Regions from separate parts of the Homo sapiens genome. Here region 1 is linked to region 2. A link means that fine-mapping ties the variant in region 2 to the expression of a gene that starts in the linked region. Tissue or cell type: fibroblasts. Region 2 holds a variant in brackets; the other region holds the start of a gene. All regions are shown on one strand. Distances are from middle to middle. Region 1 holds the start of SBSPON (somatomedin B and thrombospondin type 1 domain containing). Region 2 has its middle 33 kb from the start of SBSPON.

Evidence for each region. PIP is the estimated chance that this variant, and not a neighbour inherited with it, causes the effect. A credible set is the group of variants that fine-mapping cannot tell apart.
Region 1: SBSPON starts here. The variant in region 2 is the best candidate, but not a certain one, in a credible set for the expression of SBSPON in fibroblasts (GENCORD, PIP 0.51).

The regions. Positions count from the first base shown.
Region 1 is chr8:73,090,630-73,096,006 of GRCh38, reverse strand. SBSPON (somatomedin B and thrombospondin type 1 domain containing) reads left to right here and starts at 2,835. Exons shown (of 5, transcript NM_153225.4): 1 at 2,835-3,153. The coding sequence starts at 2,940.
Region 2 is chr8:73,123,742-73,129,118 of GRCh38, reverse strand. No RefSeq gene overlaps it. Among named protein-coding and RNA genes, the nearest start is that of SBSPON, 33 kb to the right of the region's middle. The variant T/AACAAGT (reference allele first, on the strand shown) is at 2,480.

The DNA.
Region 1 (5,377 bases), 33 kb after region 2:
GAAGCCAAGACAAGTGAATCGCTTGAGACCAAGAGTTTGAGACCAGCCTGGGCAACACAGCAAGACCTAGTGTCTCCAAAAAATAATTAGCTGGGTGTGGCAGCATGTGCCTGTAGTCCTAGCTACTTGGGAGGCTGAGGTGGGAGGATCGCTTGAGTCCAGGAGTTTGATGCTGCAGTGAGCTATGATTGTGCCAGCGCACTCCAGCCTGGGTGACACAGCAAGACCCTGTCTCAAATAAATAAATAAATAAATTACTATGTTCTAGAATGATGAATAGGTAGATCTCCATTCTCTCCCCACTCTCAGCCCCCCACCCCACCCCCATAATTTTACCAATCCTGGACAGCTTCCAAAGACAACACTTCAGAAGAAAGTGTGTCTTCTAAGGTGCATTTTATTACTTCCTATAGTCATCCACCTGATCACTGGGATGATTTCTGCTCTCCAAACATCTCCAGGGCAAGGAAAACAAAGCCACTAATTGTTACAGTTGACTGCATCCAGTTTCCAGTAAGGATGTGAACTCCATTGCTTTAAATGTCAGGGTCCTCTGACTTTGCCCATTCCTGCAGGAACTGCTTCCTTTGCTACAGCCTGCTACGGGAGGCTTTTCTTCATATTTTCAAGACAGTACAAGCTTTAACTTGAGATTGTTTCTTTTAATGTTACTTACCAGAGACAAACTCCTTTTTATCTGTGCTGTTAAAGTAGTAATCATTTGTGGTTTTCGTTTCCTTTCTTTTCTTTTTTTTTTTTAAGCGACAAAATCTTTTTGCTTTCCCCTATTTTGCACACAACCAAAACTGCACTTGTCTTTGCTTGGTTTAGGCTTAAATTATGGAGTGGGAGTGGGGTGGACATTAGGACATTAATAGATATTTAGTTCCCACTCACATCGCCTCGTCTCTGTGGGCCTCTCACAACAATCTGAAAAGATTTAGTGTTCTATGTTTGAGTTGAGGGCACTGAGATTTGTCAGAAATCATAGGATCAGAACTAGACCCAGATTTTGTAATTCTGGAAGCTAAATCTCATGAGCACAGACCCCCTAACTTTTTGTTTTCGATTTCCAATTTTGGTTTTGTCTATAAGGAAAAGGGCTGGTGGGGGTGGGGAGCGGGCTGAAAAGAACGGTATTTGAGCAGGCATTTGGCATTATACTTTTAATTCTCTTAAACCAGACCTCCTCTTCTCCTTTCTGTTATCACTTCATTTCATGTTTTATTCCTGAAAGCGAACTTGTCGGCGGATCATTTTCCTTTACATCTTTCTGGAACTGTTCCAGATTCTTATGGCATTACAAAAAAAGTATCTGCCTAAAGGCGTTCTATAAAGCAGACAGCCTTAGAGAAGGTGTGGGTATAAATTACATGAATGAGTTAATACAAAACTGCTAATAAAATCTGTGACATGGGAAAAGGCAGAGGGTATAATTTGCTGCAGTTATTTAGTTCCAGCTACAAAAACTAAAGATACACACCCACACCCACACACACATATATATAAATATATATGTATATGTTATTTCTTTAGACTACAAAAGTAAGAGAGACTTACCTAAAGACGGAAAAAAAATCTCAACGTTGAGAATTTGTTTGTATAAGCTCACAAAGAAAAAACTTCTTTTTGACTTTAGAGTGTGTTTTTCTTGGAAGATGAAATAAGATTACAGTCTCCACTGGTCAAACTTTGTGGTTAGAGTTTATAAGATAAAATTCTTATAATGTATTAAATCTTCTTCATTTCACAATGTGTTTTGTATGGTTGATTACCGTATTGTTTCACTACTTTTGTAGTCAAGTTTTTCATTTCTACTTTTGTTAACTTTTCTCTCTGATGAATAAAGAAAATTCCTCTGTAAATCCTTATATGAGAAAGAAAGAAAGTCTATGAAATTAATTTGATTTCTTAGGTTCGCAGATGCAAAAAACGTTATATTCCTGGTTTCACATAAAAACCATATTAGGGTAAATGATTTAAGAACATAAAATGAAAATTCCAGCATAAATTTGGGTGAACAAAAAGAGTGGTGCAGAAAACGTAACACATTTGGAGAGAAAGGGAGAAGAAAATATATATATTAAAAGTTAGGCAAGCATTTTATTAAAGTGAAAGTTCTAAAATATCAGTACACAGAGTTTTTAGGGGGAGAAATTGGTTTATCAGAAAACAGAGCCCCGTTATTTTATTTATTCTTCCCACCATTCACAAATTGCCTCCTCGTGAAGCGAAGTGGCATTTTCCTGGGGCAGAAGAGTCCCATTATAAATGCAGCAGAAAGAAAGGATGCTTCTTTGGACTTATCTCCTAGCTTCTCTGCGGCCTGCGGGGACTGAGAGGGTGGGCGAGCTGGTGTCCACTTTGTATTTGAATGAGCTTTCCCGGGCGAAGGCGGGGTGGCCCGCGCAGAGTGCTGCTGAGACACGTTTGGTGCCCATCGAGTGCTCTTGGTCTCATGGCTTTAGAGTGAAAATGCCCGCTCGTTAATGTGTCCCCAGGCGTTAGAAGTACAGTTTAGAGCCAGGAAATGTGGCCTCCCCCGCCGGGCTCCTGGCTACGCCCCGGCACCCCACCCCGACCCCCGCCCCGCCAGCACCTGCTTTTCCGCTCCCGCGCCCCGGAGGTCCCCGGGCTGGAGCTGGGGCGCGAGCTGGCAGCGGGGAGTGGGTGGCGCCCGGACCGTCGATTGCGGGCCCGTCCCGGGAACTGCAGCGCCCTCCCCACCTGGGCAGGGCAGCCCCGCCACCCGCCCGGGCCTCGACGGGCGCGCCGCCAGGGCTGGGGAGGGGCGGCGCGGAGGGCGGGGGCCGGGCGCAGGGCAGGGCCCGGCTGTGCCTCGCCGGCCGCTCGGGCAGCTCCCGGGCCGCGGCCAGCCGAGGATCAGAGCGCTTGCCCCGGGGGTCTGTCGCGTCGCAGGCGCCGCCGGAGCCCTGGCCATGAGGACCCTGTGGATGGCGCTGTGCGCGCTGTCGCGGCTGTGGCCCGGGGCCCAGGCCGGCTGCGCCGAGGCCGGGCGCTGCTGTCCCGGCCGGGACCCCGCCTGCTTCGCCCGCGGCTGGAGGCTGGACAGGGTCTACGGGACGTGTTTCTGCGACCAAGCCTGTCGCTTCACCGGGGACTGCTGCTTCGACTACGACAGGGCGTGCCCAGGTGGGTGGTCAGGCCGAGAGTGGGGCGCCGGCCGTTAGCCTGCAACCAACGGGCACAGGGCAGGGCGCTGTGCCAAGGACCTCAGTCCCTGAGCCAGGTGTCCTCCAGACCCTTTATCCCCACCCATCCCCACCACCGCCATCCAGGTACGCCCGGCTCCGTTCATCCTAGGGTCTCCCAGTCCCCTGCTAGACATCGAAGTGTCCCCCCACCCCCAAGACAGACCAGAGCCCGGATGGAAGGGCTGGATCCCGCTGTTCTCCAGCGGGATGGAAGGGAGCCGAGAGACGAAATCTCCGACTCAGAAACTCCAGCTGGATAGGGCCACCTCTGGCCGGCAGAGATGGCACTGACAGATAAGGGGCATGCCCCTGGGCCAGGCTCCACCACCTTCATTCTGTCAACCCTCGGGGATCTTTGGGGCTGGTGAGGGGTGATGAGGGCAGGATTGTGTAATCTTCCCACTTTGTGCCAAGGGCGTGCTCTGGGAAGGTATTAATACTTTCTTCTGGAGAGCAAGGTCTTAAAAATCTGAAGATGTCCTCATCTCTGGACCCCAAAATGTAGAACAGCCTCTTTCTCCTAGGAGGTGTACAGTATGTTCTTGGAATTTAATTTTCTCTGTACAGCATGACAAGGATTTTATCTCGAGGTCCCTATTATGTTGTAATCTTGCTGGTTTTCCTTTAGGGTCAGTCTTTTTCAACTTTAAATTTCCCACAGTATCTCACAGTTCCTTGTCCCCGTAAGGGCTCAATAAAAGCTGGTTTAATTGAATTAAAAGATAAAGGAACAAATGATGAGTACAGCCTTGAGGAACAAGGTGTACCTGAGAGAAGCCAGCCATGGAAGTGGAAGTCGCCCTGCTCCTGTTAATCACATCATCCCCAAAGCCACACAGATATTAGGGTTCGAGCTGAAGGATCCCGACATGTGGGAGCCTCAGCATTTTCTGGGGCTATGCCATTCCCTGGGCAACCGGATACCCAGTGGCGGGGAGCACCCTCCTGCCTCTGTGCTGTTTGAAGAGGGCTTCAACCCGTGGCCAGGCCCGATGCTGAAAGAACACAGTTGAAAGCATTAAGATTTTTTGACCCTGGTTGAAAGCTAATGATTTACCTGTGAATATTGATATTATTTTTGATAAAGCTTTTTGATAAGCTTCTTTCCCTTTCTGGCTCTAAGTTCAGAGTATTTTACTACTAAAGTAAGATGGAAGAGTCAGCTATTTAGGAAATGCAGTGCCCTTGAGCCAGGTAACTCCAGCCCCTCCTCACAGCATCCTAAACTGTCGGCCTCATTTCCCTGCATAACTCAAGCAAAGCCTCTCTCTCATGAGGGGCTTGCATACATTTTAAAGGTAATTATGGAATTCCTGTGACCCAGCTAATGTCCCCTGATCTGTGGTAAGCGCAGGGATAGAGAAGTGACAAAGATGCAGTCTCTGCTCTCTAGGACTTTCTACTCTAGCTGGGCAACCTGTGCAAGCTCCTGTTCGACACACTTAGCACTGAAATAGTTGATCCAGGAGCTGACCTGGAAGGAAGCACTTAAAAGACCCAAGGAATTCAAGGAAGACTCACCTGAGGAAGTAATGGGCGAGCCTGGGCCTGGAGAATGAGGAAGAGGCCTGCTGGAGGAGAGAGAGGCAGGCTGTAGGAGGGAAGCCCAATGTCACAGTCCAGTAGTTACTGTGGGCATCACCTGCTTGTGCCAGGCCCTGTGCTAGGCCCTGAGGCCAAAATGGTGAACAGGACAGATGCTGGAGGCAGCCAGATCTGGAGAGATTCAGGCCCGTAAGAGGGATGAGGAGAGACAAGGAGAATGTCTTGAGAAGAACTTGCTTTCTAGTGAGACCTGACAGCGCTCCCAGGAATTGGAAAACCCTGTCTTTATTTGGTCAAAAAGAAATTGCTTATTTTCAGTCTAGGCGGTAGAATAGTGAGACAAAGAGCCTATGGTTTTGGAGTGGGGATTTAGTGGGTAAGTATGGAAGCGGTGACATGGCCTGCTGTCTTGTGAAGCTCTCAGAAATCACTGTAAGTGTGTGCCCCAGAGAAGAGCTGTGAGTGGGGGAAAAGGAGATGGTGTCAGATTGAATTTTAAAAGGAGCATATTCTGAAGCCCTCAATACCCTGTGGCAGAGTCAACAGAGGACCTTGCAGGCCTAGAAGGAAGCAGGTGGGGGACTGAAAAGCTCCGTGTTGAGAAATTCCCTGTGCCT
Region 2 (5,377 bases):
CTTGCTCTTTTGTTTACTGTGGCTATGCAGATCCTTTAATATCCTCTACTATGTTATGAATCTTCTAAAAGTAAGTCTAGTGTGCCTACTTAACACTCAAAAGTTTGAGTCTTATTTTACTTTTACAGGCATAACTTGGATTTATTGAAAGTTCAGTTCCAGACCACTGCAATAAAATGAACATCACAATAAACTGAGAGACATGAATTTTCTTGGCTTCTCAGTACATACACAAGTTAGGTTTACACTATACTGTAGCCTATTAAGTGTGCAATAGCATTATGTCTAAAAACAACCAACATACGTACCTTAGTTAAACATACTTTATTGCTAAAAAATGTTAACGATTATCTGAGCCTTCAGTGCATTGTAATCTCTTCACTGGTGGAGGGTCTTGCCTCAATGTTGATGGCTGCTGACTGATCAGGGTGGTGGTTGCTTAAGGTTGGGAGGCTGTGGCAATTTCTTCAATAAGACAAGAGTGAAGTTTGCTGCATTGATTGACTTTTCCTTTCATGAAAGATTTCTCTATAGCATGTGATGCTGTTTGATAGCATTTCCCCACAATAGAATTTCTTTCAAATTTGGAATTAATCCTCTCAAATTCTGATGCTGCTTTATCAAATAAGTTTATGTAATAGTCTAAATCCTGTGTTGTTATTTCAACAATGTTCATAACATCTTTATCAGAGGGCTCAGAAGGGAACAAGAAACATGTTATTGGAAGCTGGAGGACAGGGGATTCTTGTAATATAGTGGCAGAAAGCTGAGCAGAATTGTGTCCTGCAATTATGTGGAAAGCAGAGCTTCCAAGTGATGAAACTGAACACTAGGTTGAGACTTCCAAGAAAGGTCCTAAGACGTGGTCTGGTTTTGCTGCTTATAGTGAAGTGTGAGAGGAATGAGATAAATTGTGTGAAGAACAGTTAAACCAAAAGAATTCAAGACTTGATTATTTGGGGAATTCTCATTTTACCCAGATTGCAAAAGATGCTAAAATTAAGAGATTCACCATCAAAAAGCATGCTGTAGAGAAAAAGCTGAGATCATGGCTGGATCTGTTTGATAATACTCTGGAAAAATAAAACATTTCAGAAAAATGAAAAGTTCAAAGTCTTTAGTCACAAAAGAAAAAAAACACAAAAAACTTTTTTGTAAAGATTAAAGATGCACCTCACAGATCCCATTATCTCAGCAGAAACCAAAAATAGAGATGGGATTATCTAGGAAAGATCTTTGAAGGATCCTTTCATCAAATGGAGTAAATCCCTGTGATTTAACATGGGAGACTTACAAGGTTTCTGAGGATTTTTATACCTGCTGAAACACTTCCAGCTTGGACCGAAAAGGACAGAGTGCAAAATGAAAGAAGCCTGTTGGTCCCCTGAAATTCAGAACACAGACCAATAAAACTACTCAGCTGCCTTTTATGAAAAAGGAAGGATGGCTCAGGCAGCAGAGCAGTGAACTACAGAGGATTAGTTTTAGGTTTTAAAACCAAATGGAGTTTGCCTCACTGCAGTTTGAAATCACTTGATTGATGATTTCTTTTTTCTTCTATTTTCTCCTTTTTTGAACAGAAATGTCTATGTCATCCTATGCCTGTCCTGCCATTGTATTTTCAGAGAAGATAACCTGAACTAAAAAAAGATAACCTTTTTTTAGTTCACAAGTCTAGGTAGAGAGAAACTGTGCCCGAAGATCTGTTACACCCAGAGGCTGACCCATACCTTATTTAGATGATTTAGACAATGAGATTTGGCACTTTGAATTTGTGCTATAATGGGTTGAGACTCTGGGTGCACTGGGATAGGGTTAATGTATTTTGCATGTGGGGCAGACATGAATCTTTCAGTGCCAGAAGGTGGACTGTCCTAGGCAGAATAATGTGCAGCCACTCAAGATGCCCACACCCCAATACCTGGAACCTGTGAGTATGTTATGTGGCATGGTGAAAGAGAAGGTTGCAGATGTAACTAGGTTTGCTAATTAGCTCACTTAAGACGGGGAGATTAGTCTAGATGATCTCAGTAGGACCAGTTTATTTATATGAGTCTTTAAAAGTGGAAGAAGAATCAGAGGCTCAGAGATGGTGGGTGAAAGGGACTGGGCCCACTGTTGCTGGCTTTGGAAACAGGGGGAAGGGCCTTGAGTCCAGGAATGAAGGCAGCCTATGGAAACTGGAAAAGGTAAGGAAACAGATTCTCCTCTAGAGCCTTCAGAAAGGAACTCAGCCCTGATAACACCTTCATTTCAGCCCCGTGCAACCCTTGGCAGACTTCTGATCTGCAGGCTGGAGATAACACGTTAGTGTTGTTTTAAGCCACCATGTTTATTGTAATTTGTTACAGCAGTGATAGAAAATAAAATACATTTAGTGTCTATCAGAAACACTTGGAAGGCTTATTACAATATAGATTGTTTTCCCCAAGTTTGTGACTCAGTAGATCTTGGGCGGGGCCTGAAAATAGGCCTTTCT[T/AACAAGT]TCTCAGGAGAAACTGACGCTGCTGGACTGGGGACCACACTTGGAGAATCCCTGCTTTATCTCCTTTAAGGCCTAAACTGTGGCAGGTCACTCAGCTTCTGAAGTGTTCCATGTTATTTATTTAACAATACTTTGTATCCTTTGGCTTGAGAAATTTAAAAGTGAAAAGAGGACTTGAAGGGATGGGTGTTAGAAAGCAATTAGTACCCTAAGCGTGCACAGAGAAGTTTGTAAAAGTCATTCTTATTCCCTGTAGCACACAAATGGGGATGGGCTCATGTCAGAGAGATCAGCAGCGGCCCATTCAAGAATGTAATTAGAGATAACAGCATCTGAGTGTGTTATGTTTTCCATGGTATGGAGCTGGATCCAATGGTTCTCATCACTCAGCATGGCAGTAATCCTTGGCATGGAGCTAAATGGAACAGTGACTTCAGAATGACAACATTGATCTTGATTTTAAACTGAGCTCAGGAATTTTTGTGTTCTCAGGTTTCACTGCATGCCTGGTATTGCACAAATTCTTCAGGTTCTTTTGCTCTAAATAGGCCTTTTTAAGCTCAAAATCAGTTCTGTATGCTGAATGGACTCTCTGACTCAAGGCCAGGCACAACAGCAGGTTCACAATAGATTTTGTATTCTTGCTGGGCCTCCTCAACATCACTTTGCAAGTAGTAGCTTTGGAAGAATATACAATGGTACTCTGTATTATTTTTCAAAGCACATTCATGTCTTTCATCTCATCCTAGCTGTCACAGATATTAATGACAAAGCCAGGAAGAGAATCCAGGTTTCCTGGATCTTAGACTCATGTTCTATCTGCTTTGTGCTCCTGAAACACTTTTACGTCAGTCTCTAGATCAATGCCCAGAATGTTGTTCCATCTATAGGCGAAACATAGCCTGTGGGGTAGGGGGGGAGAAAGAAAGAGAGAAATAGAGAGAGACAGACAGAGATAGAGACAGGGAAGGAAAGAGAGAGAGAAACCGACAGAGACAGAGACAGAGGCAGAGAGAGGAAGAAAGAACAAAAAAGTGAAGAAGATGAAGGTAACCCCCAAACAGGGAAGGATAAGCAAAGGAGGAAAAGAGAAAGAAAGAAGAAAGAAAATAGACGCTGAACCCCCTAAAGGACCACTGGGAGCCATAACCTTCCATGTCCGTGAATAGGAATAATAATCTAGTTTCCTTGGGATGGTGACAAAAACACCATCATAACCCCGAGAGAAGCGGTGGGTGTCACAGTGATTAATTACAGATAACAGTTGTCACTTCCTTTTCCCTTGTCTCCTTGCCCTGCCCTTCAGTGATGGCTGAGCTTCTGTTGCCTCCTCCCCACTTTCTTCTCCCTCACTGCTGGGGTCTGAGAGAGCTGTGTAGAGAGGTTACCTGCCTGCAGGTCACCTTGTGCTGTTCACAGGCTGATCTCAGGGTCCTCATGGGGCAAAGTGAGGACTGGACAATGACACGGACATGCTGCCTATCGCTTGGCTCCAGTCCCATGCTGTTAGCATCACAGAGCACCCAGAGTGATTTCTGGAACAGAAACTGGACAAACAACCCTTGCCGTTCTTTTTAGGTTTCATCTTGACTACTATAATATTTAGATCATGAAACCTTTTGACAGTGAATGAGAGTCAGTGTAACACTGCTCAAAATGGTGAAATATTTTGAGAATCTAGAATGGAAACACAATATCCCTTATGTAAGTATGCTTCAACAACTGTCAGTATGACCGGGTTAGGGGATGGGGAGATGGCAAAGAGGAAATGCCTGTCAAATGTTAGAGGATGTGCTGGGTTTTGTGTTGACTCTTAGTATCCAGAACCATCTCACTTTGTTCAAGGATCTCTTTCTTATTCCTCATCTGTATTCTCTCATCCTATTCTCTTACCTACATAGGAGTTTCTTGAGTAGTCAGGATCCTGGCATAGCACCTGGCACACTGCAGGTGCTTAATGAATGAGTAGGGGGATACTGGAGACAGAGAGGCACTGCTTGTGGGAAGAGCTCAGGCAGAGATTGCTGGATCTGTCATTTGGCAGGGGTGTGGGAGTCATGCATCAGACAGATGGTTAGGCTCCATGATTCTACCATTCCTCCAAACCCTGAGAGTTCACAGTTCTTATGTATTTAGAAAAGTTCAGAAATGCCAATATCTGCATCTGAAAGTGTGATGGTTAATACCGAGTGTCAACTTGATTGGATTGAAGGATACAAAGTATTGTTCCTCAGTGTGTCTGTGAAGGTGTTGCCAAAGGAGATTAAAATTTGTGTTAGTGGATGGGGAAAGGCAGCTCCACCCTCAATCTGGGTGGGCACCATCTAATCAGCTGCCAGCATGGCCAGAATAAAAGCAGGTGGGATGCTATGAACAAGCCGTAAGCCTGCCATAAACAGGCCTTAAAGAAACTGGCCATAAACAGGATTTCTGCAGCAATGTGACATGTTCATGATGGCTATCATGCACACTGCTGAAAGTTGTTGGTTTACTGGAGCAGGGCAAGGAAAACCTGGCCCGCCTGGAGTGGAAAACTGCTCAAACCACAAACAATAGCAGGAGTGGCCTGTGCCTCAACAACATGCTTTTGCTGCAGATAATCAGCCAGAGCCTGTTTCTCTACTCCTCGCTAAGAATGCTTTGTTTCCCGTAAGGAAAGCTTTTAGCTAATCTATAATCTATAGAAACTATGCTTATCATTGGCTGTCAGTAAATATGTGGGTCAGACTCTGTTTGTGGCTTTCAGCTCTGAAGGCTGTCAGCTCCCTGATCCCACTCTGCACTCTATTTCTGTGTCTGTCTTTAATTCTTCTAGTGCTGCTGGGTTAGGGTCTTCACGACCGAACTGGTCTCGGCAGTGGAAGAACATGGAAACACTAGGCTGACTTAGTCTCCCAG